Linked DNA regions of Homo sapiens: regions 2, 3, 4 and 5 are each linked to region 1. The links come from fine-mapping of genetic effects on gene expression. A gene starts in region 1. Each other region holds a variant in brackets. All regions are shown on one strand. Distances are from middle to middle.

Region 1 (6,458 bases):
GGAGACAAACTACAGAGACTGAAGCATAACACATCAAGTTTTCAACAAGAATACGGGGGCTAATTGTATCTTTTCCAAACAGACTCCTGTTTCCTTTCCCCTATTTTCCTGTTTTCTTCATACCTGTGTGTGAATTTTTTTGCTTTTGCCAACACTGACTCAGGCAAATCCCTACACGATTTCCCTTCTGTTCCCTCTCATTTCTGGCCAGCTCACTTTTGCCTAAGTTTGTTTCTTTGCTATCTATCTCCTGTGCTTAGTATGTATAGGAACTTTCCCCACTCTTCCTTTCTCCAGTATCGCTGAAATTCCTGGGTATAACTAAACCACTTTCTGGAGTACTCCCATTTCTATTCTAAGACTCAAACAGTGAGAAGGGGCAAAGTGATCCTTCCTTTGCATGATTCATATCATCCCTCAGTTCCAAATCATCTCTTCCCTTTTAAAATTTATTTTTAAAAATACCCTTATTGTTTTTGATTATCCTTGAGGCATTCTCAGATTGTTCTTAATTATTTTACACTTCAACTTACCTTGCATGTACCTTTAGTGTCATCTCTTAGTTGCAACAGGGAATATGCAAGGTGTTTATAAAGGAGGATTCAGTGGTTCCCACTTAGCGATTGGATTAAGTTGGCAGCCTGAGACCATACGGTGTGTCCTCCTGCTCCTGCTCCAAATTTATGATAAGAAGGATGTATTAAACAAATGAACTCATAGCAGTGCTGGAAAACCTGAACAAGGAAAGCTACTTTTAGTGGCCCCAAATTATGAATATTTCTAGAACGATAAAAAGTAGATGGAATTCAATTAAGGAAAGAACCACAACCTAACATGCCTGTTAGGAGAAAACTGCTGAAAAAGTTCTGGAGTAGACCCACTCCAATTTATTCCAAGTAAGAACCAGTTGGTGTTTTCCCCTGGGAGGGAGATGTGAGGGGGTATTTGGGCCCATGGGGCAGGGCAATTCCAGGTGGCTGGAAACTTCAGGGAGAATGAGAAGCAGACAGGTCCAGAAACCCAACTCCTGGGACTCTCTACCAGACAGTACATTCTGTTACTTTCTCTGGGCCACTGGAGGTGGCTGAGAACATTCCTGGTGATGAGTGTTTATGGCACTGTTGACCAAAATTGAGGCTGTCAAGACAGAAAAAAATCTATAAAGGTTTATTGAACCTCAAATGTGTGGATTGACCCAGGAAGACACAGCAACAAAGTTGGAGTGTTCTGAGGTCTGTCAGAAGGTGAAAGGTTTTGACAGAAAAATCTGAAAAGACAGAGAGAGATTGCTCATACTGGAGTTGTTCTCTTTTCATTGGAGGGTACAATACAGAAGTTATAATCATTAGCTATGGATTATATCACAGGGTTATAGGAACACATTAAAGTCACAGCTCTGCAATCAGCAAAATACAGAATGTAGAAAATGCTAAAGGTCTAAATAACCAATTCTTTCAACAAAAATAATTGCTGCAAAAAAGAGAGAAGAAGGTTATAACAGGTAGACCTGAGATTTTCTAGGTATAGAATCATATCATCTGTGAAGAGAGACAGTTTTGCTTTCAGGAGAAATTTTGATACTAATTTCTCAACTTGGGGATTTACAGACAGGGAAAACAATGTATTTGAATTCCAAATCCATGTTTGGTGCAGACTTTGGTCCAAGATTCTCAAGAGAGATTTTTTCCCCTTTAAAAGGTTTAATAGTTTCATGAATGAAAAATTGATTTTATACTACCATGCCAAGCAACACTTTAATATATTCCTGTCTGCAAGTAACTACAATGTACAGTTATTATAATTCCTATCCAGACCCTGGGAGGGTTGAATAGCTGGACTTACAAAAATATAGTGTCTTAGAACCTGCTACATCCCCCATGAAGAGCAAATATTTTAACAGCAAGGGGGCCACATTTTAGCCCCTTAAGAGATGAAAGTAACAAACTCTTAATGACCAGCTTCATGTGGTGAAGAGTGTGTTGATGTGTACTGATAGTTGTGCTGATGCAAGAGCTTGAAGCAAATACCCTCTCCTGAAATTAAGCACTAAGCAAGAGCTCATCATATTTCTGTGTGACAATCAATAAAAACGCTCCACTCCCACATTTTACAAAGGAAAACTCATCATTCTTTCAGTATAGAGTCAAATTTTATTGTCCTATGCTATGTGCCTACTTTAGGCTTGTCAAGTTTAGTGCATCCTAGGCCCACACTAGGTCTTTCTGCACTTTTGACATTAACAGTATACACATTTTAGACAGAATGTAGTGAATTTGGGGTCAGAAAGGCCATATTCCTAGTCAAGTTGCTCTCAAAAGTGATTGATAAAACACAATAGCAATTTAAAGGGAGCTTGCTGTCAAAGAAAGATTGAGACTTTGATTAGGGCTTAGACATTGATTGATTACCTCTTGGGGCTATCACTCCATACCAATAGCCAAAAATGTTTGGCATCAGGATTACAGTAGTTATAGATAAAGCCTCAATAGAGGTTTGAGTTTCCTTCTTTCCATAAGGCTACATTCTTGATTAGTGTACCTAAATATGTAGTGCTTACAAATGTTAAGTTTTTACACCTTCTCTGTTTTGCATTTATATTATTTGTATGTGTTGTATTTTCATACTTTTTTGTACAAAGACAAAAGTTGCCAAAAGGAAATTAAGAGCTTTTGGGCTGACATTTGTTATTTTTAGTGGGTAACTTATAAAAGTTGACAGAAAAATGTTATATTTCTATCTGGTCATAGATGGCATTGACCATCCTATAAATATTTCTCACACACTGACCATGTGCCCAAAACTCGTTGAGGAAAGAGGAAAATGTACAGGTAATCATAGCCACTTTACTCTCCCAAGCATCTACCAGGCATAGAAGTAAAGGAGATTTAGTGTTTCCCTTCTATAAATACAAAAATGATAGGAGAATGCAGAGTCACAAATGCCCCAATGTACAGTATCCTAGATGACTTTCTAACAGCAGGGCTTCCTGAGTGTGACACCCAAATATCTTTCCACTTCTCTCATTCACCAACATATGTTTATAATAACCATGTAGTTACATTTGCAAAATAAGATAAATAAAAATATTTTAGAATATTGGCTGGGCGTGGTGGCTCACACTTGTAATCCCAGACCTTTGGGAGGGCAAGGCAGGCAGATCCCTTGAGCCCAGGAGTTTGAGATCAGCCTGGGCAACATGATGAAACTCCATCTCTGCCCAAAAAAATTATATACATTTGGATGGGTCGTTTGCAAAAAAGTAGGGAAGTGTACCCTTGCAAACAAGGACAACATTGATAGTCAATCTTCTTATAGAAAGTGGTAAAAGTGGTAAGCTCTACAAAGGAGCAAGTAATGTTTGCAGATGCAAATCTTACATGCTAACCACTTTGCTAGCCAGATACACTCTGGAGGAATCAACTAATTGGTGTAGGTGTAATAGGATATGTAATATTGCTTGATCAAGACTCTGCTTCTGTGGTTGTTTCTCCACATCTTCCAAAAGATCTTTGCGAAACACTACATTCAGAAACATCAGATGGACATGCTTGATTCACCACGTCTTGGTTAATGAATAAACTTGTTTTAAATTGGCTTATTGCTGGTCTCTCAAGGCTTCCTATTTTTGTTTGCTTTAGTCTCTCTAAAATTTCAGGGAAAAACTATGAGTCTCAAAATGCTTATAAGCAGGAACAAGCTGATTTTACTACTAGGAATAGTCTTTTTTGAACGAGGTAAATCTGCAACTCTTTCGCTCCCCAAAGGTAAGTTTCAAATGAACTCTATAATTACCTTTGTCTGAACCTTTGCTGGCAATGGACGTCACAACTCCGAGACTCCATGTTCCTTTGGGAAAATAGGAGAAGCAAATATATTTTGGATATCTAATTGTTTTTAAACAATTATTTTGGACTTATCTCCTGCAATCGGCATAGGACACAGGGTGAAACATTTATAGAATGCAACTAATGTATCCAATTAAGTAAACAATCCCTGTTTTCTTCGCTTAGTTTTCCTAAGTGAACTGAGATTGTTCACTTACTTGAACCCATTACATAATCCCATCTTGGTTCATAGAGCAAATTCTGGAAATCAGCATGGATTTGGAAGCATTTTTAATCTTTTACAAAATCATCTTGCTGAGAAATATGAAGCATGTTCACTGTAGTATATTATAAATGGTCTTTTTTCCCCTTCAACTAACTTAAGCTGAAAACAGTTCTTGGAAGATTTCTCCTTGGTCAGACTTGTGCCAACCCTGAGAATCAACATGTTTTCTGACTTTGCTTTACTGAATTTGGGAAATAGTAAATTTTGTATTTAAAGTATTTATGACTCATTCAACTGAAACAGTTAGAAAATAAGCTTTTGTTCCAATGTCATCCTGGCACTGGGTTCAGGATCAAAACACTTACTGTTACATTCATGCTCTGCCATTATCCAGCTGTGTGTCTCCTTGATTCTCAGTTTTCTCATCTGCAATGTGGGGATAACAGTGCTTCATTTATAGGCATAGAGTGGGATTAAATGAGAAGCTGTATGAAAGAGCTTTGAATATTTTAACATGTTGATCTAAATAGCTATACTCTTAAGGATGTGTTCTCAAGAAAAGTCATTTGTTTGTCCATCCAGTGTTTCTAAGTGCTTACTTATGCCAAGAATTAAGCTAAACCTTAGAAATGCAGAGGTGAATAAGGCAAGTTTTTTCCCTTGAGTAGTTCATAGTCCGATGATAGAGGCAAATAATTCATTATCACAATTCTGCATGACAAGAACTATAAAAGGGGTGAAGAAAGCGTGCTACACAACACAAGGGAGAGGCAATCCCACTTTGAGGAAATCAAGGAAGACTTCCTGGTTGAGGTGATCTCCAAGCTGAGGAATAAGAATTACAGAATTTAGGTAGGCAATGAAGCATGGTGATTATGAAGCAAGGCTAGTTCTAATCCTCCTTCAAAATATGGAAAAGGATGACCTCCAGGAGGGACAGAAGATGTGCCATCCTTGAGTTACCAGGTGATGTTAAACATCTTTAATCTAGTCTACCTCTTTGCTGAGGAGTCAGAAAACCCATTGAGGGCAAATAAATAAAAACAACTTTTTCAGGGATAAAGTATTTTACATAAAGAGGGAGGAGTTTTTTCTTCTATTACCTAGCAAACCTCTATCCGAGTACCAACTTGTGAATCAGGACACTTCACTCCACTCTCCTTAAATGACCTGTCACTTTTCATCCCTCAAGAGAATTAAATCCAATAAAGATTTATTGATATCTGAATGTGTGCTGAGCACCATACACCATAGTCTCAGACTCAGTTTCATGGGTGAAATGGAGAAGATATTACCTCAATCCTAGAAGCTATCTAATCATTTAGTTTGTCTCGTTTTTTTCTCAGCTCCCAGTTGTGGGCAGAGTCTGGTTAAGGTACAGCCTTGGAATTATTTTAACATTTTCAGTCGCATTCTTGGAGGAAGCCAAGTGGAGAAGGGTTCCTATCCCTGGCAGGTGAGTCTCAAGGACTTCTATGCATCAAGAACTGTGCTAGATATTATGGATATAGATATTTTTAAGGTTAAGTTTATATCTTTGAGGAGCCTACAGCCTAGTTGGGTTGAAAGACAGAATAGTCATCATGGCATGTGATGAATGTCATAAGAAAAAGTATTTACTTGTACATAGTAAGTCATTTTAGAATCAAATCAAGTATCACAAATAGGATAAGCAAAAATTAGAAAGTATATTGGAGAGGTAGGGTAAAGAATAGGCTTGAAGAAGCTATAGGGGTCAAATAGTTAAGAGTATGAGAAAAGTGGTAGATCCAAACCATTTCCCTAAGAGGCTTAGAGAAATAGGAGTATGTGTTGAAAGGCTCCCCAGCCCTCACCTTGCCTTTCTTCCAAACCTCTTCAGCTGGACTCTGCAATATCTTATACTATTTTACCTTCATTCACAGACACTGTTCATATTGTTAGAGCAACAGGTCTGCATCAACTGTGTTATAAAAATAAGTAAATACATCTCACCACTTCTAACTGCTACCTCTGTTGACACATACTTACAGCCAGTCATCTCAAATTAACTACCTCTCATCTAGACCAGGGTTGCCAGCACCACTCTTCTTTCTGAGCGGTAGTGTCTGGGCTTTATCTTTTCACAGTCCACGATTCTTGACATTTACGAGTGTGATATCTGAGTCTGGTTTTGAGAATAGGCTTCATCACCGTGTTTAGGGGGATCCCAGGGCATGAACTTGCTTTCATTTAAGGTATTTGCAATTTAGGTATCTCTGAAACAAAGGCAGAAGCATATTTGTGGAGGAAGCATCGTCTCACCACAGTGGGTGATCACGGCGGCTCACTGCATTGCAAACAGGTAAGAAAGGCCTAGCCCATGAGTGAAGACCACACCACCATTTCTTCTCCCTTGGAATCATCAGCAATAACCCTATTAAAACATG
Region 2 (6,458 bases), 110 kb before region 1:
CATGGGCAAAGACTTGATTGCTAAAACACCAAAAGCAACAGCAACAAAAGCCAAATATGACAAATGGGATCTAATTAAACTAAAGAGTTTCTGCATAGCAAAAGAAACTATCATCAGAGTGAAGAGGCAACCTACAGAATGGGAGAAAACTTTTGCAATCTATCCATCTGACAAAGGACTAATATCCAGAATTTACAAAGAACTTAAACAAATTTACAAGAAACAACCCCATCAAAAAGTGGGTGAAGGATATGAACAGACACTTCTCAAAAGAAGATATTTATGCAGCCAACAAAAGTAGGAAAAAAAACTCATCATCACTGGTCGTTAGAGAAATGCAAATCAAACCACAATGAGATACCATCTCATGCCAGTTAGAATGGTGATCATTAAAAAGTCAGGAAGGCTGGGTGCAGTGGCTCACACCTGTAATCCCAGCACTTTGGTAGGCTGAGGTGGGCAGATCACGAGGTCAGGAGATTGAGACCATCCTGGCTAACATGGTGAAACCCCGTCTCTACTAAAAATATAAGAAATTAGCCGGGCGTGGTTGCGGGCACCTGTAGTCCCAGCTACTCGGGAGGCTGAGGGAGGAGAATGCCGTGAACCTGGGAGGCAGAGCTTGCAGTGAGCCGAGATCGCACCACTGCACTGCAGCCTGGTGGACAGAGCAAAACTCCATCTCAAAAAAAAAAAAAAAAAAAAAAGTCAGGAAACAACAGATGCTGGAGAGGATGTGGAGAAATAGGAACACTTTTACACTGCTGGTGGGAGTATAAATTAGTTCAACTATTGTGGAAGACAGTGTGGTGATTCCTCAAGGATCTAGAAGTAGAAATACCATTTGACCCAGCAATCCCATTACTGAGTATATACCCAAAGGACTATAAATCGTGCTGCTATAAAGACACATGCACATGTATGTTTATTGCGGCACTATTCACAATAGCAAAGACACGGAACCAACCCAAATGTCCATCAATGATAGACTGGATTAAGAAAATGTGGCACATATACACCATGGAATACTATGCAGCCATAAAAAAGGATGAGTTCATGTCCTTTGCAGAGACATGGATGAGGCTGGAAACCATCATTCTCAGCAAACTAACACAAGAACAGAAAACCAAACACCACATGTTCTCACTCATAAGTGGGAGTTGAACAATGAGAACACATGGACACAGGGAAGAGAACATCACACACCAGGGCCTGTCAGGGGATGGGGGACCAGGGAAGGGATAGCATCAGGAGAAACACCTAATGTAGATGACAGGTTGATGGGTGCAGCAAACCACTATGGCACATGTGTACCTATGTAACAAAACTGCATGTTCTGCACATGTACCCCAGAACTTAAAGTATAAAAAAGAATAGAATAAAAATATTATTTTTTCTTGAAAAAAAACATGACAGCCACTGATTCAAAAAAGACTTTGATAATTTTTATCATCAATTTGTGTTTAAAAAGCCTTAGCAAAATTGAAATAGTGTAATTACTTCATCTGGGAAAAACTACTCATGTTTTGAAAGCTTTTCCTTCATGTCTGAGAATGAGAAAGAGATGCCATTGTTAGCATTTCTATTCTTCGTGGTATGGATGACACTAGCCAGGGCACTATAACAAGAAAAGGAAATAGAAGGCATAACAATAGAAAAAAAGAAATAAAGTATCATACAAGATGACCGTTTATGTAGAAAATAATAAAATAAAAATAAATTATCAATACTAGAGATTTTTTAACAATATTGATGGAAAAACAAAATAAAAGCAAAAGTTTTATTTCCTTTTAAAATTTTTTAAATTTTTATGGGTACACAGTAGGTGTATATATTTATGGGGTATAGGAGATGTTTTGATACAGGCATGCAATGTGTAATAATTACATGATAGAGAATGGGGTATCCATCCGCTCAAACACTTGTCCTCTGTATTACAAACAACCCAATTATACTCTTTTAGTTATTTTAAAATGTATGATTAAAATATTATCGATTGTAGTCGCCCTGTTGTGCTAGCAAATGCTAGGTTTTATTCATTAATTCTATTTTTTTGTACCAATTAACCATCTTCACTTCCCCTCCAACCCTCTACTGCCTTTCTCAACCTCTAATAACCATCCTTCTACTCTCTATCTCAATTAGTTCAATTGTTTTGATGTTTATATCACACAAATAAGTGAGAACATGTGATATTTGTCTTTCTGTACCTGGATTATTTCACTTAACATGATGCTCTGCAGTTCCATTAACATTGTTGCAAATGACAGGGCCTCATTCTTTCTTACGGCCAAATAGTACTACATTGTGTCTATGTACATTTTCTTTATCCATTCATCTGTTGATGGACAGTTAGGTTGCTTCCAAATCTTGGCTATTGTGAACATTACTGCAACAAACATGGGAGTACAGATATCTTTGATATACTGATTTTCTTTCTTTGGGGTATATACCCAGCAGTGAGACTGCTGGATCATATGGTAATTCTATTCTTGAGGAACCTCCACACTGTTCTCCATAGTGCTTGTACTCACTTACATTCCCACCAACTGTGTACGAGGTTTCCCTTTTCTCCACATCCTCGCCAGCATTTGTTATTGCATCTTTTAGATAAAAGCCATTTTAACTGGGGTGAAATGATATATCATTGTAGTTTTGATTTGCATTTCTCTGATGACAAATGATGTTGAATACATTTTCATATGTCTGTTTGCCATTTGTATGTCTTCATTTGAGAAATGTCTATTCAAATCTTTTGCCCATTTTAAAAACTGGATATTTTCCTAAAGAGTTGTTTGAGCTCCTTATGTATTCTGGTTATTAATCCCTTGTCAGAGGGGTAGTTTGCAAATATTTTCTCCCATTCTGTGTGTTGTCTCTTCACTTTGTTTATTGTATCATCTGCTGTGCAGAAGCTTTTTAACTTGAGGTGATCCCATTTGCCCATTTTTGCTTTGGTTGCCTGTGCTTGTGGGGTATTGCTCAAGAAATTTTTGTCCAGACCAATGTTCTGGGGACTTTGTCTAATGTTTTCTTGTAGTGGTTTAATAATTTGAGGTCTTAGAGTTAGGTCTTTGATCCGTTTTGATTTTATTTTTGTATATATAGAGAAACAGGGGTCAGTTTCATTCTTCTGCATGTGGAAATCCAGTTTTCCCAGCATGATTTATTGAAGAGACTGTCTTTTCCCCAGTGTACGTTCTCTCTTCCTCAGTGTATGTTCTTTGCACCTTTGTCAAAAATGAGTTTACTATAGGTGTGTGGATTTGTTTATGGGTTCTCTTTTCTGTTCCATTGGTGTATGCATCCATTTTTATGCCAGTATCATGCTGTTTTGTTCACTATAGCCGTGTAGCATAATTTGAAGTCAGGTAATGTGATTCCTCCAGTTTTGTCCTTTCTGCCTATGAGAGTTTTGGCTACTTGGGCTCTTTTCTGGTTCCATATAAGTTTTAGGATTGTGTTTTCTATTTCTGTGAAGAATGTCATTGGTATTTTGATAGAGATTGCACTGGATCTGTAAACTGCTTTGAGTAGTATGGACCGTTTAACAGTATTGATTCTTCTAATCCACAAGCATGGAATATCTT[C/T]CCATTTTTTGTGTCCTTTTCAATTTATTTCATCAGTGTTTAACAGTTTTCTTTGTAGATATCTGTCACTTCTTTGGTTAGTTCCTAGTTATTTAATTTTATTTGTGACTGTTGTGAATTGGATTCTGTTCTTTATTTCTTTTTTATATTATTCACTGTTGGCATATAGAAATGCTACTGATTTTTAAAATGTTGATCTTGTATTGTGCAACTTAACTGAAATTGTTTATCAGCTCTAATAGTTTTTTTGGTGGAGTCATTTGATTTTTCCAAATATAAGATTATATTATCTGCAAATAATGATAATTTGACTTCTTTCTTTCTGATTTGGATGCCCTTTATATTTTTCTCTTGTTTGCTCTAGCTACAACTTCCAGTACTATGTTGAATAACAGTGGTGAAAGTGGCCATCTTTGTGATGTTCTAGGTCTTAAAGGAAAGGCTTTCAGTTTTTACCCATTCAGTATGACACTTGTTGTGGGTCTGTCATATATGGATTTTATTATGTTGAGGTATGCTCCTTCTATAGTTTTTTTAAATGTTTTTATGATGAAGGGATGTTGAATTTTATAAAATGCTTTTTCAGCATCAGTTGAAATTATTATATGGTTTTTGTCCTTCATTTTGTTAATATGATGTACCACATTGGATTGATTTGCGTATGTTGAACCATCCTTGCATCCCTGTGACAAATCCTACTTAGTCATGATGAATGATTTTTAAAAAATGTGTTGTTGAATTTGATTTGCTAGTATTTTGTTCAGGATTTTTGCATCAATATTCATCAGGCATATTGGGGTATTGAAGTCTCCAGCTATTATTGTATTGAGTCTATTTCTCTTTTTAGCTCTAATAATATTTCCTTTATATATCTGGGTGCTCCAGTGTTGGATGCATGTATATTTAATATTGCTATAATCCACTTTCTGAATTGACCTCTTTATCACTATATAGTGACACTTTGTCTCCTACAGTTTTTGTTTTGAAATCTATTTTGTCTGATATAAATATAGTGACTCCTGGTGTTTTTTGGGTTTCCATTGTCATGGAATACTTTTTCCATCCCTTTGTTTTCAGTCTATGTGTGTTTTTATAGGTAAGGTGTGTTTCTTGGCAGAAACAGACCAATGGGTCTTGTTCTTTCATACATTTGGTCAGCCTACGCCTTTTGATTGGAGAGTTTAGTCCACTACATTCAATGTTATTATTGATAGGTAAGGCCTTGCTCTTGCCATTATGTTATTTGTTTTCTGGTTGTTTTGTGGTCCTCTCTTCCTTCTTTTCTGTCTTCCTGTCTTCCTTATAATGAAGGTGATTATCTCTGGTGATATAATTTATTCTCTTGCTTTTTTTTGTATATCTATAATATGTTTTTTGGTTTGAGGTTGCCATGAGGCTTGTAATTACCCATTATTTTAAGCTCATAACAACTTAATACTGTTTTCATAAACAAATAAACAAAAAGAAAACCAATAAACAGTTTAGCTTCATCTCCCCTGCTTTTTAATTTTTTTGTTGTTTTTATTTATACTTTATTGTCTATGTCTTGAAAAGTTGTTGCAGTTATTATTTTTAATTGGTTCATCATTTTGTTTTTCTACTAAGGTATGAGTAGTTACATACCATGATTACAGTGTTATAATATTCTGTGTTTTTCTGTGTAGTTACTACCAGTGAGTTTAGTACCTTCAGGTGATTATTTAGTGCTCATGTACGTCCTTTTATTTCTGCTTGAAGTACTCCCATTAGCATTTCTTGTAGTGCAGGTCTGCTGTTGATGAAATCCCTCAGCTATTGTTTGCTGGGAAAGTCTTTATTTCTTCTTCGTGTTTGAAGATGTTTTCACCAGATATGCTATTGCAAGGTAACCTTTTTTTTTTTTTTACTTCAGCACTTCAAATATGTCATGCTGCTCTCTCCTAGCCTTTTCCACTGAAAAGTCTACTGCCAGACATGTTAGAACTCCATTGTAAGTTATTTTTTTTTTCTGTTGATGCTTTTTGAATCCTTTCTTTATCCTTGACCTTTGGTAGTTTCATTATTAAATGACTTAAGGTAGTCATTTTTGGATTAAATCTGCTTGGTGTTCTATAATCTTCTTGTACTTGAATGCTGATAGCTTTCTCTAGTTTTGGGAAGTTCTCTGTTCTTATCCCTTTGAATAAACTTTCTTCCCCTATCTGTTTCTCTACCCCCTGTTTAAGGCCAATAACTCTTAGATTTGTCCTTTTGAGGCTATTTTGTATATTCTATAAGAATGCCACAATTACTTTTGCACCAACCTAATATCTCCTCTGTGTATTTTCTTTTTTTATTTTTATTTTTTAATTTTTTTATTATACTTTATGTTCTAGAGTACATGTGTACAACATGCAGGTTTGTTACTTATGTATACATGTGCCATGTTGGTGTGCTGCACCCATTAACTTGTCATTTACATTAGATATTTCTCCTAATGCCATCCCTTCCCGCTCCCATGACAGGCCCCTGTGTATGATGTTCCCTGCCCTTTGTCCAAGTGTTCTCATTGTTCAAGTCCCACCTATGAGTGAGAACATGCAGTGTTTGGTTTTCTGTCCTTGCGATAGTTTGCTCAGAATAATGGTTTCCAGCCTCATCCATGTCCCTGCAAAGGACATGAACTCATCGTTTTCTATGGCTGTATAGTATTCCAGGTGTATATGTGCCACATTTTCTTAATCCAGTCTATCATTGATGGACATTTGGGTTGGTTCCAAGTCTTTGCTATTGTGAATAGTGCCACAATAAACATACATGTGCATGTGTCTTTATAGTAGCATGATTTACAGTCCTTTGGGTATATACCCAGTAATGGGATGGCTGGGTCAAATGGTATTTCTACTTCTA
Region 3 (6,458 bases), 180 kb before region 1:
TTTTCTTCCTCATTGTCTCCCCCTAATCTTGGCATATTGTCTTGACTAGGACTTTTACAATACAACTTCCAACCAGCCTGCCATAAGTGGGTAACAGATGTGCTGAGATGGCCAGAATTTTAATGGCTATTGCTTCTAGGCACAAGTAAAATTTTTCTTTCACACTACTGTGCCATGCAACATTATCATTTTCCAAGAATTCTATGGTGTGAAAAATATTGGGAAGTATTACTCTATAACAGTTGGGAAAACAATTCCTTCATTTAGCTTTTTCAAATTATTTGTTATAAAATGGTTATAGTATCAAGCTGAACCTAGCAAATTATTTTAATTTGTGGTTATACATCTTTTCCTTATTTTAATTTTATGTTTTTTTCCTTTCTTTTCTTACATCTCTTTCTTTTTCTTTTCTCCCTTTGGTAGACTTATCCAGGATGTGCCAATTATTGGTTATTGCAAAGAAGTAGATATTTCCTCATTAAATCAAGTATACTGGTTTTCTGTAATTTATTTAATTCATGCTTTTATATGTATTAATTCATTTCCACCACTTTTTGCATTATGATTAGTGGTATTTTTCTAGCCCCCTTGATTGAATATTTCATTTTATAAATCACCCTAATTTTAAATTAAATAGTGTTAAGGCTACAAGTTTTCTTCAGTTTACCACTTTGGACAAATAGTGATATACAATGCATTCCTTTGATGATAGTGATCCATTTCTAGTTATGCCATAAAAGGAATATATTTAAAAACTCAAGATATTTATAAGAGGTATTCATTTTTAAGTGCTTAGAATTTTTTTTTCTATTTTCTGTTATCATTTTCAGTTTTAATTTATTTCGATAAACACTGTACTCTATATGACTTCTATCTTTGGAAATCTATTAAAAACTTCTTTGCAGCTGAATCTATGGCCAATTTGTGTGTGTCATAAGCATTTGAAAAGCACGTGTCCCTATTGGGATCTAAAGTTAAGCACACACTCACCCACATGCATTCACACACACACACACATCTAGTGTTTTCTGCTTCATTTTAATGTTCATGAATCAGTTCACTTGATCATTTACCTGCTGCCACCTTGATCATTTACCTGCTCCACTTCTGAGTGGAGCTCAGAAGCCCCTGTCCCGGTGGGCTCTTCAGGCAGCCTGTCTGCTCATCTTGGCTGACTCATGGGTTGCTGCCATGGCAAAGAGGCCTTGACTGCTGTTGACCCTGGATAGTCTGGGCAGTCAAAATAAAAATGGAGTCAGATGGAGAATTTCAAGAAATATCACATAGAATTGCTCACTTAGTGACTGATAGGTCATGGTGATGGCAGCAGCAGGGAGGCATTGCCAGGGCTGCATGCTCCATGGAGCTGGCGGGATCCTTGGACAAGCGGGAGCCCTGCCTGTTCCGAGTTGGGGTTGGAGCTCCCAGGGTGCCCTGCAGCTACCCACACTGCAGCTGTAGACCTGGGCCTCCTGCTTCATGGAACAGGCAGGAGCCCCACCCTCCCAGGTGCAGCTGCAACAACCGGATCAGTGGCTACAGATCCGGGCCTCCCACTTCGTGCAGCAGGAGCAGGAGCAGGAGCCAGACCCTCCCCCTTTCCCTGCATCCCTGAACTCTTGGGGGCTGAGAAGGACCCCTGCCCTTGTAGACTCAGAAGTGCCTGCTCCCACTGCCTGCCTGGCTTCTCCCCTGCTGTTGGTACCTGCTCAGATCTTAGAGAAGTCTGGGTGAGCTTTGGCACCATGAATGGCAGCAGGAGGCAAACAGGTTCCTGGGCAGAAGAGGGCAGTCCCAGTAAGGCCCCACCTTCAGGCCAGGGAGGGCCTGAATTCTGGGGGCTGGGCCGCCAGTCCCGCAAACTGGAGTGGGGGCTTCTGGTGCCTTTTCCAGGACCTGCCACCCATGGCCGCCATGGACCAATCAACACACACTTCCTCCCCTCTGAGGTCCATAAAAGCCACGGGCTCAGCAAGAGCCAGCAGAGGATGGAGAGAGGACTGGATGATCAGCCGCAGAGAGGAGATACTGTCTCTGCTGAGAGTTGGAGATAATGAGATGACCAGCTGCAGAGAGGAGCTACCCTCTCTGCTGAGAGCTGTAGAGATCACAGGATGACCTGCCAGCAGAGAGGAGCCACCCTCTCCAGGGCCTCCTCTGCTGAGAGCTGCAGATATCAGGATGACCAGTTGCAGAGAGGAGCTACCTTCTCCAGGCCCTCCTCTCTGCTGAGAGCTGAACACTTGACAGGACTACCTGCCTGCAGAGAGGAGCTACCTTCTCCAGGCCCTCCTCTCTGCTGAGAGCTGAACACTTGACAGGACTACCTGCCTACAGAGAGGAGCTACCCTCTGTGGGTCTCCTCTGAGCTGTCATAACACTCAATAAAGCTCCTCTTCATCTTGTTCAACTTCCACTTGTTTGCATACCTCATTCTTTCTGGACATAGGACAAGAACTTGGGCAAAGGTGTCACCAGCCAGCCACAGAGGTTTCTGGCCAGAAGAGTGACACCCCAAAGATCCCATTACAATGGGACATTAGGAAGAGGGAAAAATCAAGAATAAAAAATAATTTATGACAAATATGGAACTAGTCAGCTATGGAAAAATTATTTATACATAGTATTCTTTTTAGTTGATTTTCTTGGGCTTCATGAGCATCATCAGGAAGTAATGATAATTTACCTGTTTTGTTCCAATATTTATAGTCTCATAAGTCTGATGTTGGCTAAAATTTCAGAGACTTTTCTAGGTCTCAAGGAGTTAGAAAAGCCTGTTGAAATCTGGGTTATAACAACAAGCCCCCTATGACTCCCAGGGCTTCCAGTGCATTGGCATCATAGAGAGTTACAAGAGTTTAGGGTCATCCAGATACAGCTGGAACTCAGTGACCCACTTCCTCTGAGTTCACCTAAAGGAGATATAAATAGGGAGATGCGTCATCTTAATGGGGATCATTCTGATTAGGTATACAATCTTACTAAGCCAACTCAGAGGAGGTTGCAGTTCCTTGCCAATTTTTGATAGCATTGCGTTCATCCACTTTCTCAGGCAGGGACTATAGGAAATGAAGGTGAACTCGTGGAGATTTTGGAGAGAATTTAATGAAGAGGCTGTTTACCAAGGTATGGGCAGAATTAAGGGGAATCATGAGGGATGTTGAGGCACTCAGAGACTAGTAACAACATTAACTAAAAATAAAGCCATTAAGACCCTAGGCTTGAAATGGTGATAAGGAATTAGTGTCACCTGAGTGGCGGACGTGTGGCAGGGGGTTGCCTGGTTAGAGCACTAA[T/C]GGTAGAGGCACTAGACACTGCCAGAACCACAGTGCAAGGGGGAGCAGGGAGGAAACCAGAGACTACATCCCCTAACCTCTCTTCCCACACTTCCAACCTTTCGCTGGTGCTTTCAATCGGCTAGACCCAACCAGAATGCAGAGATCTAAGAGCCTGGGTGGTGCAGTGTGTGTGGTGTGTGTGTGTGTGTGCGCATGCGTGTGTGCAGCCCACTGGGGCACAGAGCAGAGTTGATCAGCGAAGGGCAAGAAAAGATTGTTACCAGGTCAGAAAAAGGATAACCAGAGCACACACTGGTGCTTGTTCCACTCAGTTGGGGCCGGGATACAGGGTGTGTTTTATATGCAATATATTGAAAATTATAGTACCTGAGGCAGAAGAATCAACCCAGGATTGCTGTTTTCTGATGTGGACTGTGGATGTGAAAAACACTAGGCAATAGAGATATAATCATAGCTACATTTTTATTCTGTGAAAACTATATATTATGAGCATTTGTCTTTTTCATTTCTTAACAAATATTTTTCAAAACTTTCATTTTATTTTTGATTTGGGTATACTTTAAGTACATAGAACATGTTATTTATTTATTTATTTGTTTATTTACTGAGACAGGATCTCTCTCTGTCTCCGAGGCTGGAGTGCAATGTTGCAATCAGGGCTCACTGCAGCCTCGACCTCCTGGGCTCAACTGATCTTCGTACCACAGCCTCATGAGTAACTGGGACTACAGGTGTGTGCCACTATGACTTTTGACTGGCCAATTATTTACTTTTTGTAGAGATAGGTCTTGCTATATTGCCAAGCTGGTCTCAAACTCTTGGGCTCAAGCAATCCTCCCGCCTTGGCCTCCCAAAGTACTGGAATTGCACAGTGAGCCACTGTGTCTGGCCACAGAACTTTTAAATTGTGCATTAAATCTGTTTTACCTTCATGATTCTGCCTTTGATACCATGCTTAGAAAGAATTTTCCTACCCTTAAGGGTTTATAAATTTCACCTACATTTCTGGTACTTTGTGACTTTTCCAAAAAAACCCTATATTTATTGCACAATTTATTGAAATATCCACATATTTTAAAAATATATTCATCTATATGTGTTTATAAATATTTATATCATATTTCTTTTCCTTTATGTGCTTATTATTTTCCTGGGCCAGTGCACTACACTGTTTTAGTTATTACTTTGTTATTGTTAGGATACATTTTAAATCTAGCAAAGAAAAGTTTCTTTCTTTGTTCTTTTTCCTATTTAAAATTTTTATTTTGGAAAATTAACAGAGAAATAAATGCTTTAAAAGGCTAGAAAATACAGACAAGCAATAAAAACAAGGAGAATATCCATACTCCCATCAGCTTAGAGATATAATATCTAGTTGTACACTTTCCCAGTTTCCTTTTTTTGTTTATAGTCCCTGCAAATTTTATGCATACATATTTTTACTTATAGAAATTAAATTATCTTATATATACTGTTTTGAATCCTTTTATTTGTAATTTAATAGACGACCATGGGCATTTTTTCTATGCAACTACAGATAGTATCTCATGATATGAATGGTCCTGGATTTACTTACACATCCTCCTTTGGATGAGCAAGTAAGTGGTTTCCAATTTTTTCCACTATTATACAGAATACGCAAATGAATATCCTTGCACTTACATGATTTATTTCTTAAAATAAATTCTTATGAGTGCAATTCTTTTTATAAAAGAAAATTATATTTTTAACTTCTCTAAATGTTGCCAGGTTTCCCTCCAGAAACATTTTACTCCTACTATGTATGAAATTTCCCTTTCCTCCTTAGCCTTGCTAGCAATGGGGGGGGGGTTTATGCTTACATTTTAAATCTTGGCTAACCTGATAGGTAAAAATTAATATATCGCTATTATTTTGTTTGCATTATTTTGATCATGAATAAAGTTGAGCCCTTTATCCTATATGTATTTTATTTTAAATGAATTTATGTATGTATACAGCCCATTAAAATATATATCCTATATTTATATATTTATATTATATAATATGTAATATTTATATATATTTTAAATTGGATTTTTTTGTTTGTGAGTACTTTTTATATAATATAAATACTAGATTGAATTGAATAGATTTCAAGTATTTTTTAGTTACCTTACAGTTTCTTTCCAATATCTCATACAAATATTTAAAACATGTATGGGATCAAATATGTCACCATTTTCATTTTGAATCGTGTTCTTGGTGTCATCTGCAGAAAAATCTATCCAACCTAAAGTTCATTAAAACACATTTTCCAATTTTTCCCACGGACACATTTACATTTGGCTGTGGTATAAGCTAGATATCCAGTATTTTTTTTTACCAAAAGAATAGTCTAGTCTTACACCACTTTTGAATAACATCTTTTCTGCAATAACTTGAAATACTTCTTTTATCTTATTTTTAGCTCCTAGATATACTTTGGTCTGTTGTCTGGGTCTGTTCTGTTTCATTGATCTATACTTTTATTTCTAGGTGACTTCCACAAAAAGTTAATTTTTGAGGCAGTTCATTGGCTAGGCAGAAATCCTAAAATACAAACCCATTCTGATTGGTTAATTAGGATACTCCCAGCTGAGAGATGTTGAAGGGCTGCAGACACTGAATTCAGTTGTTATCCAAGTCAGCTGGAACATTCTGTAATCCTTTAGCAGGTGTGAGTGCAATCCCCTTGCAATCTCCTGTCTCCACTTTAAAGCCTTAGCCTTAATTACTTCATTTTCTTTCACACGGTGAGAAGCTTGTACCGCTTTTTCCTAGCTCCTGTAATACTTTTGTTTTTCCTGTAAAGAAACCTCTTGGCAATGGTGGAGATTTGCACAGGCCCTAAGAGCCATTGATAACGATATCATTATTCGACACTGTCGTTACAAATCTATGTACCTTCCTGACTTTCATCTCCACAGAAAGTAAATTTTTCACAGTGATAGACATTTGTAGTGCTTTTTAAAGGCACTGGTTCTGGTGGACACTGAGAGACAATTTTTATTTGCTGCACGTGGAAAGGACAACAACATACCTGGACAGAAATGCCTCGAGGATGTACTGAAGGCCCCTCTCACTTTTCACAGGTACTGAAGACAGATTTAACGGACATTTATTTTCCCCAAGGGTCAACTCTCAGTAGGTTGATAACCT
Region 4 (6,458 bases), 160 kb before region 1:
TGCTACTGAAAGTCTTAAAGCCATTCTCATTGCTAATAAAGCTTGTGGTATTTATTTTCCTCTCTCTGGAATCTAGCAAAATCCATTTTCTGCCTCCTTTGTCAGAAGTTTCACAATGATAAGCCTTGATATGCATTTGTTTCTAGACAGTCTGTTGGGCATTTACATAACCTTTAGTATCACATCCTTTATATACTTCAGAGAGAGATATTGAGAATGGATTTTGGCTTTGGTGTGAGAGAAGATGGATCATAGTTTAAATGTACTGCCTTTTTATCTTTTATAGCTGGGAGGCAGCAACTAAGATCTTAGATTGATAAATCAGGAAAATAGTGGTATAATAAATGTTGGAGTTTTTATGGTGGCCAATAGAAATTTTAAAGGGAGATAATGGTTTTCAATTTTTCTACTCTGCTGTACTTTTGGAACTTTTAAAGCCATATTCATGTTTTGGTTTTAGAATTAAAATATAAAACAATATATAAAAATAAAAGTGTATATGCTCTGTGATCCAGCAATTCTACTTTTAGCAGTCTTATTCCAGAAGCATTCATTATCCTACTGTTTATTATGGCAATATTTGTAACAAAAAATGTTAATAGGCAAATGATTAAATAAATTGTAGTACTTCTGTGCTATATTCTATGTCCCGTGTGGTTGGAATTATCTTAGTTCCTCTCCCTACCTTCCTGCTTTGGCCCTAGAAACAGAAATATTCACCCTTTAAGAAGTAGGGGAAAATGGTTTCCACACTTCTCTTCATCTCACAATGACATGTGAAGACATGAAAAGAGTGATGACTTATCTGATTGGTGAGATCAGAAGAGACTGGACTAGTCATTTATTTATTCTCTCTTCGAACCAGATAATGTATTCTGTGTTCTCTATAGTAAGACCTGCAGGGGAAGCCTTTGCACTGTCAAAAGACCTGCTAGGTCATAAATCCAGCTGGGCTTCTCTAATTCAGCTGCATAAAGAGTTCAGATTTAAATTTAAGTGAAAAAAGCAAGGCAGAGAAATATATATACATATAATATGTGTGCATATATATGTTATTTGTATATGTATATATACATATTTATAGATCATAGATCTCAAATATTTAAGAAAGATAATATTTGCATATCCTATATATGAAATGCAGAAGAGTTTCAGAAGTATGCATATCAAATTGTGAACTCTTGTTTCCATGAGGTAAGTAATAGCAGGGAGGAGTAAGAGGGATTTTTACTTTTTATCTCAATGTATTGTTAAAATATTTTAGTTTCTATAACCACATATTTATTGATGCAATTAAAAGTTTGAGGAACAAAAATACCCTGGAAGAGAATACATGAATATTTTCATGTATAGTGGTTCAATAGTGGTTATCTCCAGAAAGTGAGTTGTGGAAGTCTATATCATTTATTTGTTTAATATTTTAAAACAATAACCTTGTATTACTTGTTATGATTCATAAAAATAAGATAATATTAGTTTTTCATCATAGGCAATAGCTAGCCTCTCCCAGATCATGTTGCTTGATGGCTGTGATCATGGTCACAGCCTTTCTTTTTTTCTTACATTTTGAGAATGCTTTTATTGCTTCAAGTCTAAAATTAACATGTTTTCTCGTTTTTCTTCCTTAGTAGAATTAATTAATTGACATAGTTTCTATTCATATCTGACCCTCTGAAATAAACCTTACCTGGTCATGGTGTGGACTGTTTAATACATAATGTATTGAATTCAAATGGCACGTGTTGGACTTAGAACTTTTGGCTTTATCTTCACAACTGATATTGGGTTATAGTTTTTGTGTGTGTGTGTTTCTGGCTGTGACATCAAGGCTATGTTAGTCTCAAAGAACGAATTTGGAAATCTTGTAAATAAAACTTCCACATCTCCCACACTTCTGCTATTTTTAATAGTGATTATGCACAGTGCAAGTGCTAAGTACTGTGTTCTTATATACTTCTTAAAGTTTCAGTAGCTGCTATACAGCTTTTTTCTTATTTCTAATATTGTGTCTTTAAATTTTTGCATTTTTCTTAATTAGATTTTTTGGAGATTTTCCTGTTTAATGAGTTTTAAAATAGAAGGCCCAGCCTTTAGAACTAGTTGTATATCCTATTATACTCCTGTTTTTCTAACTAGTTTTCTTCTTCTTATCATAACTTCTTACTTTGACTTTTATATATTTTGTTCTTCTTGCTTTCTGAGTTGAATGTGCAGTTTGTTTTTCATTTCCTAGGTTTAATAATAAATATGCATAATAATAATAGCATTAATAATTATGCAGTTTTTCTGAGGACAGCTCTGATTGGAGAGGGCCCTTATTTCCATACTTATCTCCATGATACTTTGACTTAACCCTGGTAGGGCACAGGAATGGAGTGCAAGTTTCAGATACAACTTGTGTGACTTTTATGTTCATGGAAGAATTATTGTTAAGTGTGCTTTTTTCCTTTTCTTCTTATTGGAAATCTATGTGACATTTTTATTTTAAAAATAGGGTTTTTCTGCTTAAAAAGGCTTAACACTGTTGACT[G/C]TGTTTATATTTACTCTATTTAACTTTATTTTCTTCACACTGCATTGACTTTCTGTGAGGAGATGAGTCACATAAAATTCTATCATTCCTGTCTGCTTCTGCCTAGAGCACTCTAAATGCATGGTGGCTACCATCATTATTACTGCACCCCTTCCTAGCCTCACCTCTTGCTCAATTCTGTTCAAGAGGATTTCAAAGGAAGTCAGAAATAAGAATAGTATTCAGCATGACTCACAGAGCAGTGCTGCAGAAATAGAGGTGGATGGACACATTCTATTTTTTCATTGGTACAGGGACTAGGTAAGGCTAATTACTGAAGACACAGAAATATAAATACTAAATTTTATGATAAGAAAATAAAACATACTAGAAACAACATACATTTTATTTATAAAAATCCAAAACATTGTTAAATGAAACAATACATGAAAGATAAAAATAAAAAATCTTGGCCGGGTGTGGTGGCTCAAGCCTGTAATCCCAGCACTTTGGGAGGCCGAGGTGGGCAGATCACGAGGTCAGGAGATCGAGACCATCCTGGCTAATACTGTGAAACCCCGTCTCTACTAAAAATACAAAATAATTAGCTGGGCGTGGTGGCAGGCGCCTGTAGTCCTAGCTACTCGGGAGGCCAAGGCAGGAGAATGGTGTGAACCCAGGAGGTGGAACTTGCAGTGAGCCAAGATCACACCACTGCACTCCAGCCTGGGCAACAGAGCAAGACTCTGTCTCAAAAAAAAAAAAAAAAAAAAAAAAAAAAAATCTTAGTGGGGAGATGGTAGATGAAATGAAATGGTGAAATGACTGGTTGACTAAAACAGAGAAAGAATAATAAAAGCAATCTAAAAAGATCATAATTAAACTTATTTAATTATGTGAAAGTGAAACATGGGTATTGCATATTATTGAATTAGTGCTAGATACACAAAGTTGAGAGACTCTTCCACAATGCAGAAAGTAATATGAGCAAAAAATGATGAAAGAGAGATGATGAAAAATAAGGAGTACAGAGTCTGAAGATCCAACATACAGATAATAGGCATCTCTGAGGAAGCATTTATTTACTGTGAATCAGAAGCCATAATAGATTAAAGAAAATTTCATAAACTAAAAAAATGTGATTCTATAGAATGAGAATATTCCCTGTATTTCAGGCAAAAATAATAATGAGAAGAGACCCACATGGAGGCAGATTGGTGAAGTTTTTGAATTTCACAAGGGACAGAAATCAAATAGTTTCAAGAAGTCTAAAGAACTTTGTGGGAAATGTTTATGAGCCAGCAATTTATGTGATAAGAGAATAGATATAGTCTCACTTAAATACGGCCTCTGAAAATGAATTATTTATGCACATTTCATTGAAAGTTATTCAAAGACATAATTATTTTGGCAAGAAATGAACCAAATATTAAATCAAGAATGAGGAGATACAGAGTTGAAAAAACTGAACTTGAACACTGATAGTTAAATTATACTGAGGTCTCTCATTTAATGCATATTTGTACCACGTTTTACAGAATGGGACCTTAAAATAATGTACATCTATTTTTTTCACATGTAATGACTTCATATATTTTTAAGCACAAAGAAGAAACTAAACAAAGAACAACTAACAAAGAAGAAATAAAATCTTAGTCTTAACCCCTCACCACAAGGCTTTTGGGTTCATGGCCTCTTGCAGAAGAATACACAACAATAACAGCTGTGCTATTGTCCATGTAGTGTTGAAATCTGCACACACATATTATGCTTGTTCCTTCTGAAACAAATAGATGGGCCAAAAGGTCCTGTGACTCATCCAACTGCTGGACCAAAGATTTCCACCTCCATTGATTCTCTTCTCCAAACATCTTTGTGGGAAACCACACTGGATGCGGAATGGGAGTGAGGCTCACATGATAAGAGAATTTGTAGATGGTTTGTTCTTTTTTGAATAAATTGTCCCTTGACCTAAATTGTCATAGAGGTTCTCAAGACAGTAATAAATGTTGGAGCAAAATTGAAATCTAGAGTAAATGTTCCTGAAATTTTTTTTCTTTTAGAAGGAAAGAACAGAACAGTTAGGGGAATCAATGATACAAATAAATAAAATAAATGTTTCCTGAGCTAATGAAAACTTCGTATCTTCAGGTTAGAAAGGCTCATTGAATGTCAGACAAAAACAAAATTAAAGAAAATATTTAGAAAAAAGGATTGACTCAAGAAAGTGAAAGATGTGGTAGAAAGAAAAGGTGATAAATAATAACTCCTCTGAAATAATTGTTTAAATAATTCCTGTTCATGTGATTTTGAAATAACATATAGGTTCATAAGTGATTTTTGTCATTGTTGTTGGGATGGAGTCTCATTCTGTCACCCAGGCTGGAGTGCAGTGGTGCAGTCTTGGCTCACTGCAACCTCTGCCTCCCAGGTTCAAACAATTCTCCTGCCTCAGCCTCCTGAGTAACTTGGACTACAGGTGCGCAGCACAACACCTGGCTAAGTTTTGTATTTTTAGTAGAGATGGGGTTTCACCTCATTAGCCAGGCTGGTCTTGAACTCCTGACTTCAGGTAATCCACCCACCTAGGCCTCCCAAACTGCTGGGATTACAAGCGTGAGCCACTGTGCCCAGCCCATCTGTGATTTTTAAAAGAGAAGATGCATTGTTAAAAAAAATTGTGATATGAATCTAAAATATTCAGATCATTGGGACTTGGGGTTATAGGGAGATAAGTGAGGAGGCAAACGTGTGATAAACTGTTTCTTTTATAGGGTGTATGTAAAAATCATGATGTATTCTGGAAAGTGATTCAAATTCAAATGCAATGTTTAAAATCACAGGCTGGGTGAGGTGTCTTACGCCTGTAACCCCAGCACTTTAGGAGGCTGAGGCAGGAGGATCGCTGGAACCCAGAAGTTCAAGACCAGGCAGGGTGACATAGTGAGACCCTATCTCTAAAAATTTTTTTGTTTGTTTGTTTTTTTGAGACAGAGTCTCACTCTGTCACCCAGGCTGGAGTGCAGTGGCGCGATCTCGGCTCACTGCAAGCTCCGCCTCCCGGGTTCAGGCCATTCTCCTGCCTCAGCCTCCCGAGTAGCTGGGACTACAGGTGCCCGCCACCACATCCGGCTAATTTTTTTTTGTATTTTTAGTAGAGACGAGGTTTCACCATGCTAGCCAGGATGTTCTTGATCTCCTGACCTCATGATCTGCCCGCCTCGGCCTCCCAGTGTGCTGGGATTACAGGCGTGAGCCACCGTGCCCAGCCAAAAATTTTTAAAATTACCTAGGAGTGGTGGCGCGCGTCTGTAGTCCCAGCTACTCAGGAGGCTGAGGTGAGAGGATCACTTGAACCTGTGAGGTTGAATCTGCAGTGAGCCATGATTATACCACTGCACTCTAGCCTGGGTGACACCCTTTTTCAAAAAAAATCACAGATAACCAGTAACTAGCAAGTAAAATATGAAGGAAAGATAATCACTAGCGCAAAGTTAGAAAAAAGAAAAAGCAAAAAAGTGTAAAATTAGGAAAATGAAAACATACTAATAGAAAAATATGATGATAAAGTTTGACCAAATGCCATATTTATAAAAATAAATGTGAATAATTTAGATTTGAATTAAAAGATGAATATTCTCAAATTATATCAAAAGTAAAATTTAAATATAAGGTGTTTACAAGGGACTCAACTAAAGCAAAATAACTGATAAATTTTAGCAATAAAGTGATGGCAAAAATATAGCATGTAAGTAATTCATAATTTTTTTTAAAACCTGGCTGGGCGCGCTGGCTCACGCCTGTAATCCCAGCACTTTGGGAGGCTGAGGCGGGCGGGTCATGAGGTCAGGAGATCGAGTCTGTCCTGGCTAACATGGTGAAACCCCATCTCTACTAAAAATACAAAATATTAGCTGGGCGTGGTGGCAGGGGCCTGTAGTCCTAGCTA
Region 5 (6,458 bases), 210 kb before region 1:
ACAAACCCCCTTTGACTGTAATTTTCCTTTACCTACCCAAATCCTATAAAACAGCCCCACCCTTATCTCCCTTTGTTGACTCTCTTTTCGGACTCAGCCGCCTGCACCCAGGTGAAATAAACAGCCATGTTGCTCACACAAACCCTGTTTGGTGGTCTCTTCACACAGACGCACATGAAATTTGGTGCCGTGACTCGGATCGGGGGACCTCCCTTGGGAGATCAATCCCCAGTCCTCCTGTTCTTTGCTCCATGAGAAAGATCCACCTAGGACCTCAGGTCCTCAGACCGACCAGCCCAAGAAACATCTCACCAATTTCAAATCAGGTAAGCGGCCTCTTCTTACTCTCTTCTCCAACCTCTCTCACTGTCCCTCAACCACTTTCTCCTTTCCACTCTTCAATCTCTCCCTTCTCTTAATTTCAATTCCTTTCATTTTCTGGGAGAGACAAAGGAGACACATTTTATCCGGGGACCCAAAACTCCGGGGCCAGTCACGGACTGGGAAGGCAGCCTTCCCTTGGTGTTTAATGATTGCAGGGATGCCTCTCTGATTATACACTCACGTTTCAAGGGTGTCAGACCACGCAGGGATGCCTGCCTTGGTCCTTCACCCTTAGCGGCAAGTCCCGCTTTTCTGGGGCAGGGGCAAGTACCCCTCAACCCCTTCTCCTTCACCCTTAGTGGCAAGTCCCACTTTTCTATGGGGCAAGAACCCTCAATCCCTTATTTCCACACCCCAACCTCTTATCTCTGTGCCCCAATCCCTTATTTCCACACCCCAACCTCATATCTCTGTGCCCCAATCCCTTATTTCCGTGCCCCAACCTCATATCTCTGTGCCCCAATCCCTCATTTCTGCACCCCAATCCCTTATTTCCATGCTCCGACCTCTTATCTCTGTGCCCCAACCCCTTTTCCCACTTTTTTGGAAGGTAAGAACCCCCAAACCCCTTCCCTCCGTTTCTCTACTCTCTCTTTTCTCTAGGCTTGCTTCCTTCACTATGGGCAACCTTCCACCCTCCATTCCTCCTTCTACTCCCTTGGCCTGTGTTCTCAAAAACTTATAACCTCTTCAACTCACACCTGACCTAAAACCTAAATGCCTTATTTTCTTCTGCAATGCCGCCTGACCCCAATACAAACTCGACAGTAGTTCCAAATAGCCAGAAAATGGCACTTTGAATTTTTCCATCCTACAAGATCTAAATAATTCTTGTCATAAAATAGGCAAACGGTCTGAGGTGCCTGACATCCAGGCATTCTTTTACACAACAGGGCCTTCCTAGTCTCTGTGCCCAGTGCAACTCATCCCAAATCTTCCTTCTTTCCCTCCTGCCTGTCCCCTCAGTACCAACCCCAAGTGTCTCTGAGTCTTTCTAATCTTCCTTTTCTACAGACCCATCTGACCTCTCCCTTCCTCCCCAGGCTGCTCCTCGCCAGGCCGAGCTAGGTCCCTATTCTTCCTCAGCCTCTGCTCCTCCACCCTAGAATCTTTTTATCATTGCCCCTTCTCACACCTGGTCCGGCTTACAGTTTCGTTCCATGACTAGCCCTCCCCCTCCTGCCCAGCAATTTACTCTTAAAAAGGTGGCTAGAGCTAAAGGCACAGTCAAGGTTAATGCTCCTTTTTCTTTATCCCAAACCAGATAGCGTTTAGGCTCTTTTTCATCAAATATAAAAATCCAGCCCAGTTCATGACTTGTTTGGCAGCAACCCTGAGACACTTTACAGCCCTAGACCCTAAAAGGTCAAAAGGCCGTCTTATTCTCAAAACACATTTTATTACCCAATCTGCTCCCGACATTAAATAAAACTCCAAAAATTAAATTCCGGCCCTCAAACCCCACAACAGGATTTAATTAACCTCACCTTCAAGGTGTACAATAACAGAAAAAAGTTGCAACTCCTTGCCTCCACTGTGAGACAAACCCCAGCCACATCTCCAGCACACAAGAACTTCCAAACACCTGAACCGCAGTGGCCAGGCATTCCTCCAGAACCTCCTCCCACAGGAGCTTGCTACACGTGCCAGAAATCTGGCCACTGGGCCAGGGAATGCCCGCAGCCTGAGATTCCTCCTAAGCTGCGTCCCATCTGTGTGGGACCCCACTGAAAATGGACTGTTCAACTCACCTGGCAGCCACTCCCAGAGCCCTGGAACTCTCGCCCAAGGCTCTCTGACTGACTCCTTCCCAGATCTTCTCGGCTTAGCGGCTGAAGACTGACACTGCCTGATCACCTCAGAAGCCCCCAGACCATCACGGACGCTGAGCTTCAGGTAACTCTCACAGTGGAAGATAAGCCCATCCCCTTCTTAATCAGTACGGAGGCTACCCACTCCACATTACCTTCTTTTCAAGGGCCTGTTTCCCTTGCCTCCATAACTGTTGTGAGTGTTGACGGCCAGGCTTCTAAACCTCTTAAAACTCCCCAACTCTGGTGCCAGCTTAGACAATACTCTTTTAAGCACTCCTTTTTAGTTATCCCCACCTGCCCAGTTCCCTTATTAGGCTGAGACACTTTAACTAAATTATCTGCTTCCCTGACTATTCCTGGACTACAGCTATATCTCATTGCCACCCTTCTTCCCAATCCAAAGCCTCTTTGCGTCCTCCTCTTGTATCCCCCTACCTTAACCCACAAGTATAAGATACCTCTACTCCCTCCTTGGTGACCGATCATGCACCCCTTACCATCTCATTGAAACCTAATCACCCTTACCCCACTCAACACCAATATCCCATCCCACAGCATGCTTTAAAAAGATTGAAGCCTGTTATCACTCGCCTGCTACAGCATGGCCTTTTAAAGCCTATAAACTCTCCTTACAATTCCCCCATTTTACCTGTCCTAAAACCAGACACGCCTTAGAAGTTAGTTCAGGATCTGCGCCTTATCAACCAAATTGTTTTGCCTATCCACCCTGTGGTGCCAAACCCATATACTCTCCTATCCTCAATACCTGCCTCTACAACCCATTATTCTGTTCTGGATCTCAAACATGCTTTCTTTACTATTCCTTTTCACCCTTCATCCCAGCCTCTCTTCGCTTTCACTTGGACTGACCCCGACACTCATCAAGCTCAGCAAATTACCTAGGCTGTACTGCAGCAAAGCTTCACAGACAGCCCCCATTGCTTCAATCAAGCCCAAATTTCTTCCTCATCTGTTACCTATCTCGGCATAATTCTCATAAAAACACACGTGCTGTCCCTGCCAATCGTGTCCGACTGATCTCTCAAATCCAAGCTCCTTCTACAAAACAACAACTTCTTTCCTTCGTAGGCATGGTTAGTGCGGTCAGAATTCTTACACAAGAGCCAGGACCATACCCTGTAGCCTTTCTGTCCAACTTGACCTTACTGTTTTAGCCTAGCCCTCATGTCTGCGTGCAGCGGCTGCCGCTGCTTTAATACTTTTAGAGGCCCTCAAAATCACAAACTATGCTCAACTCACTCTCTACAGTTCTCATAACTTCAAAAATCTATTTTCTTCCTCATACCTGATGCATATACTTTCTGCTTCCCGGCTCCTTCAGCTGTACTCACTCTTTGTTGAGTCTCCCACAATTACCGTTGTTCCTGGCCCAGACTTCAATCCAGCCTCCCACATTATTCCTGATACCACACCTGACCCCCATGACTGTATCTCTCTGATCCACCTGACATTCACCCCATTTCCCCAGATTTCCTTCTTTCCTGTTCCTCACCCTGATCA[C/T]GCTTGATTTATTGATGATGGTTCCACCGAGCCTAATCGCTGCACACCAGCAAAGGCAGGTTATGCTATAGTACAAGCCACTAGCCTGCCGCTTAGAACCTCTCATTTCCTTTCCATCATGGAAATCTATCCTCAAGGAAATAACTTCTCAGTGTTCCATCTGCTATTCTGCTACTCCTCAGGGATTATTCAGGCCCCCTCCCTTCCCTACACATCAAGTTCAAGGATTTGCCCCCACCCAGGACTGGCAAATTAGCTTTACTCAACATGCCCGAGTCTGGAAACTAAAATACCTCTTAGTCTAAATAGACACTTTCACTGAATAAGTAAAGGCCTTTCCTACAGGGTCTGAGAAGGCCACCGCAGTCATTTCTTCCCTTCTGTCAGACATAATTCCTCAGTTTAGCCTTCCCACCTCAATACAGTCTGATAACAGATGAGCCTTTATTAGTCAAATCAGCCAAGCAGTTTTTCAGGCTCTTAGTATTCAGTGAAACCTTTATATCCCTTACAGTCCTCCATCTTCAAGAAAAGTAGAATGGACTAAAGGTCTTTTAAAAACACACCTCACCAAGCTCAGCCACCAACTTAAAAAGGACTGAACAATACTTTTACCACTTTTCCTTCTCAGAATTCAGGCCTGTCCTCGGAATGCTACAGGGTACAGCCCATTTAAGCTCCTGTATAGACTCTCCTTTTTGTTAGGCCCCAGTCTCATTCCAGACACCAGACCAACTTAGACTGTGCCCCCAAAAAAACTTGTCATCCCTACTATCTTCTGTCTAGTCATACTCCTATTCACCATTCTCAACTACTCATACATGTCCTGCTCTTGTTTACACTGCCGGTTTACACTGTTTTTCCAAGCCATCACAGCTGATATCTCCTGGTGCTATCCCCAAACTGCCACTCTTAACTCTTGAAGTAAATAAATAATCTTTGCTGGCAGGACTATGCTGAATCTCCTTAGGCACTCTCTAGTCAGCTATCCTGAGTCGTCCCAATTCTTAGACCTTTTATACCTGTTTTTCTCCTTCTGTTATTCCATTTAGTTTTTCAATTCATACAAAACTGTATCCAGGCCATCACCAATCATTCTATACGACAAATGTTTCTTCTAACATCCCCGCAATATCACCCCTTACCACAAGACCTCCCTTCAGCTTAATCTCTCCCACTCTAGGTTCCCACGCCGCCCCAATCCCGCTTGAAGCAGCCCTGAGAAACATCGCCCACTCTCTCTCCATACCACCCCCCAAAAAATTTTCACCGCCCCAGCACTTCAACACTATTTTATTTTTCTTATTAATATAAGAAGGCAGGAATGTCAAGCCTCTGAGCCCAAGCCAAGCCATCGCATCCCCTGTGACTTGCACGTATATGCCCAGATGGCCTGAAGTAACTGAAGAATCACAAAAGAAGTGAATATGCCCTGCCCCACCTTAACTGATGACATCCCACCACAAAAGAAGGGTAAATGGCCAGTCCTTGCCTTAAGTGATGACATTACTTTGTGAAAGTCCTTTTCCTGGCTCATCCTGGCTCAAAAAGCACCCCCACTGAGCACCTTTCGACCCCCACTCCTGCCCGCCAGAGAACAAACCCCCTTTGACTGTAATTTTCCTTTACCTACCCAAATCCTATAAAACGGCCCCACCCTTATCTCCCTTTGTTGACTCTCTTTTCGGACTCAGCCCGCCTGCACCCAGGTGAAATAAACAGCCATGTTGCTCACACAAACCCTGTTTGGTGGTCTCTTCACACGGACGCGCATGAAAGTTTCCCCTCTTGCCTTTCTTGATGGAGTGATAGCCCCTTGTGGTCTGGTGCTGCCCCAATTCTTGAATCTCTGAATGCTCCGATAAACTCTCTAAAATTGAAATGTACTTAAGTTTTTCTTTCATCATAAGGAAGTGCTATTCTGCAGCACGCACATGCAAAGCAAGAACAGTTGCTACCAGGTAGTTAAGACGGAAATGAGCATAAGACTATGTAAAGGCAGAGATTTGGGGCCACCTTCTAGAGCTGTGCCCACAAGAGGCCCCTAACTGATAACTGCCCACTCTGATTCTCTGAATGAGCTACATTATTGCGTGTATGCTGCACTCCTCTGGGCACCTGGAACCTCTTAGCCACCAAGGCAGCAGCACATTGTTTAAAGCATCTCCTAGCCTTCACTCAGTGGCTTCCGGCAGAGTGGTGATGCCAGACATCACTTACAGTGCTCACTGTCTGTGGGGAACAGAGGGTCCCATCAGACACACGTCTGTTTCAGCCAGTTTCTGAGAAGCCCACAGAGAGGACAGTGACAATGTTCTGGGACTCTGGTTGCTTCAGGTGTTGCCTGGGCTCTCAGAAGTCTAAGAAGATCATTATTTCCTGGTAAACTTTTAATGCATTTGAAATATACCAGTTCATCCTAGCACGTTAACTGAGGAGATGTGTGCTTCTCAAATTTTAGGGTGCAAAAGCATCACCTGGAGAGCTGATTAAAACAGATTCATGGACACCTCCCCAGAGATTTGGATTCAGTTGGTCTGGGGTGGGGCCCAAAAACTTGCATTTCTAACAAGCTCTTAGTCCTTGCTGATCCAGAATTACACTTGCAGTAGCCCTGTCCTACAGGATAGTTTAAATATTTGAGACTTATTAAAGGAGTTATTTAATAATAAATGTAAAGTACTTAGAGCTATGCCTGGCATATGATAATCACTTAACAGATGTTGAGTTTCAACATTT

Direction of the effects. Positions count from the first base shown, and alleles are read on the strand shown. Sizes are in standard deviations (SD) of each study's normalised expression. Not every link is listed here.
For the expression in fibroblasts of the gene that starts at base 3,594 in region 1, C is the high allele of the variant in region 3 and T is the other (large effect, 1.9 SD a copy in GTEx).
For the expression in prostate of the gene that starts at base 3,594 in region 1, allele C in region 5 goes with a higher level than allele T (moderate effect, 0.72 SD a copy in GTEx).

Evidence for each region. PIP is the estimated chance that this variant, and not a neighbour inherited with it, causes the effect. A credible set is the group of variants that fine-mapping cannot tell apart.
Region 2: its variant is the best candidate, but not a certain one, in a credible set for the expression of OVCH2 in lung (TOPMed, PIP 0.62).
Region 3: its variant is the best candidate, but not a certain one, in a credible set for the expression of OVCH2 in fibroblasts (GTEx, PIP 0.50).
Region 4: its variant is the best candidate, but not a certain one, in a credible set for the expression of OVCH2 in sun-exposed skin (GTEx, PIP 0.89).
Region 5: its variant is the best candidate, but not a certain one, in a credible set for the expression of OVCH2 in prostate (GTEx, PIP 0.73).

Annotation. Positions count from the first base shown.
Region 1 is chr11:7,703,613-7,710,070 of GRCh38, reverse strand. It overlaps OVCH2 (ovochymase 2), which reads left to right and starts at 3,594. Exons shown (of 16, transcript NM_198185.7): 1 at 3,594-3,764; 2 at 5,397-5,506; 3 at 6,282-6,373. The coding sequence starts at 3,677. LOC105376533 (a long non-coding RNA gene) reads right to left here. Exons shown (of 11, transcript XR_007062576.1): 7 at 4,416-4,476; 8 at 3,793-3,846; 9 at 534-670.
Region 2 is chr11:7,815,200-7,821,657 of GRCh38, reverse strand. No RefSeq gene overlaps it. Among named protein-coding and RNA genes, the nearest start is that of OR5P3, 12 kb to the left of the region's middle. The variant C/T (reference allele first, on the strand shown) is at 3,591.
Region 3 is chr11:7,879,528-7,885,985 of GRCh38, reverse strand. It overlaps LOC283299 (a long non-coding RNA gene), which reads left to right. Exons shown (of 8, transcript NR_036678.1): 2 at 3,053-3,126; 3 at 3,913-4,030; 4 at 4,837-4,897; 5 at 6,227-6,391. Among named protein-coding and RNA genes, the nearest start is that of OR10A6, 49 kb to the left of the region's middle. The variant T/C (reference allele first, on the strand shown) is at 3,297.
Region 4 is chr11:7,867,505-7,873,962 of GRCh38, reverse strand. All of the region lies in intron 6 of LOC283299 (a long non-coding RNA gene), which reads left to right. Among named protein-coding and RNA genes, the nearest start is that of OR5P3, 40 kb to the right of the region's middle. The variant G/C (reference allele first, on the strand shown) is at 2,531.
Region 5 is chr11:7,911,188-7,917,645 of GRCh38, reverse strand. LOC107984307 (a long non-coding RNA gene) reads right to left here. Exons shown (of 3, transcript XR_001748116.2): 3 at 5,487-5,589. Among named protein-coding and RNA genes, the nearest start is that of OR10A6, 17 kb to the left of the region's middle. RefSeq lists an enhancer at 4,848-5,348. The variant C/T (reference allele first, on the strand shown) is at 3,720.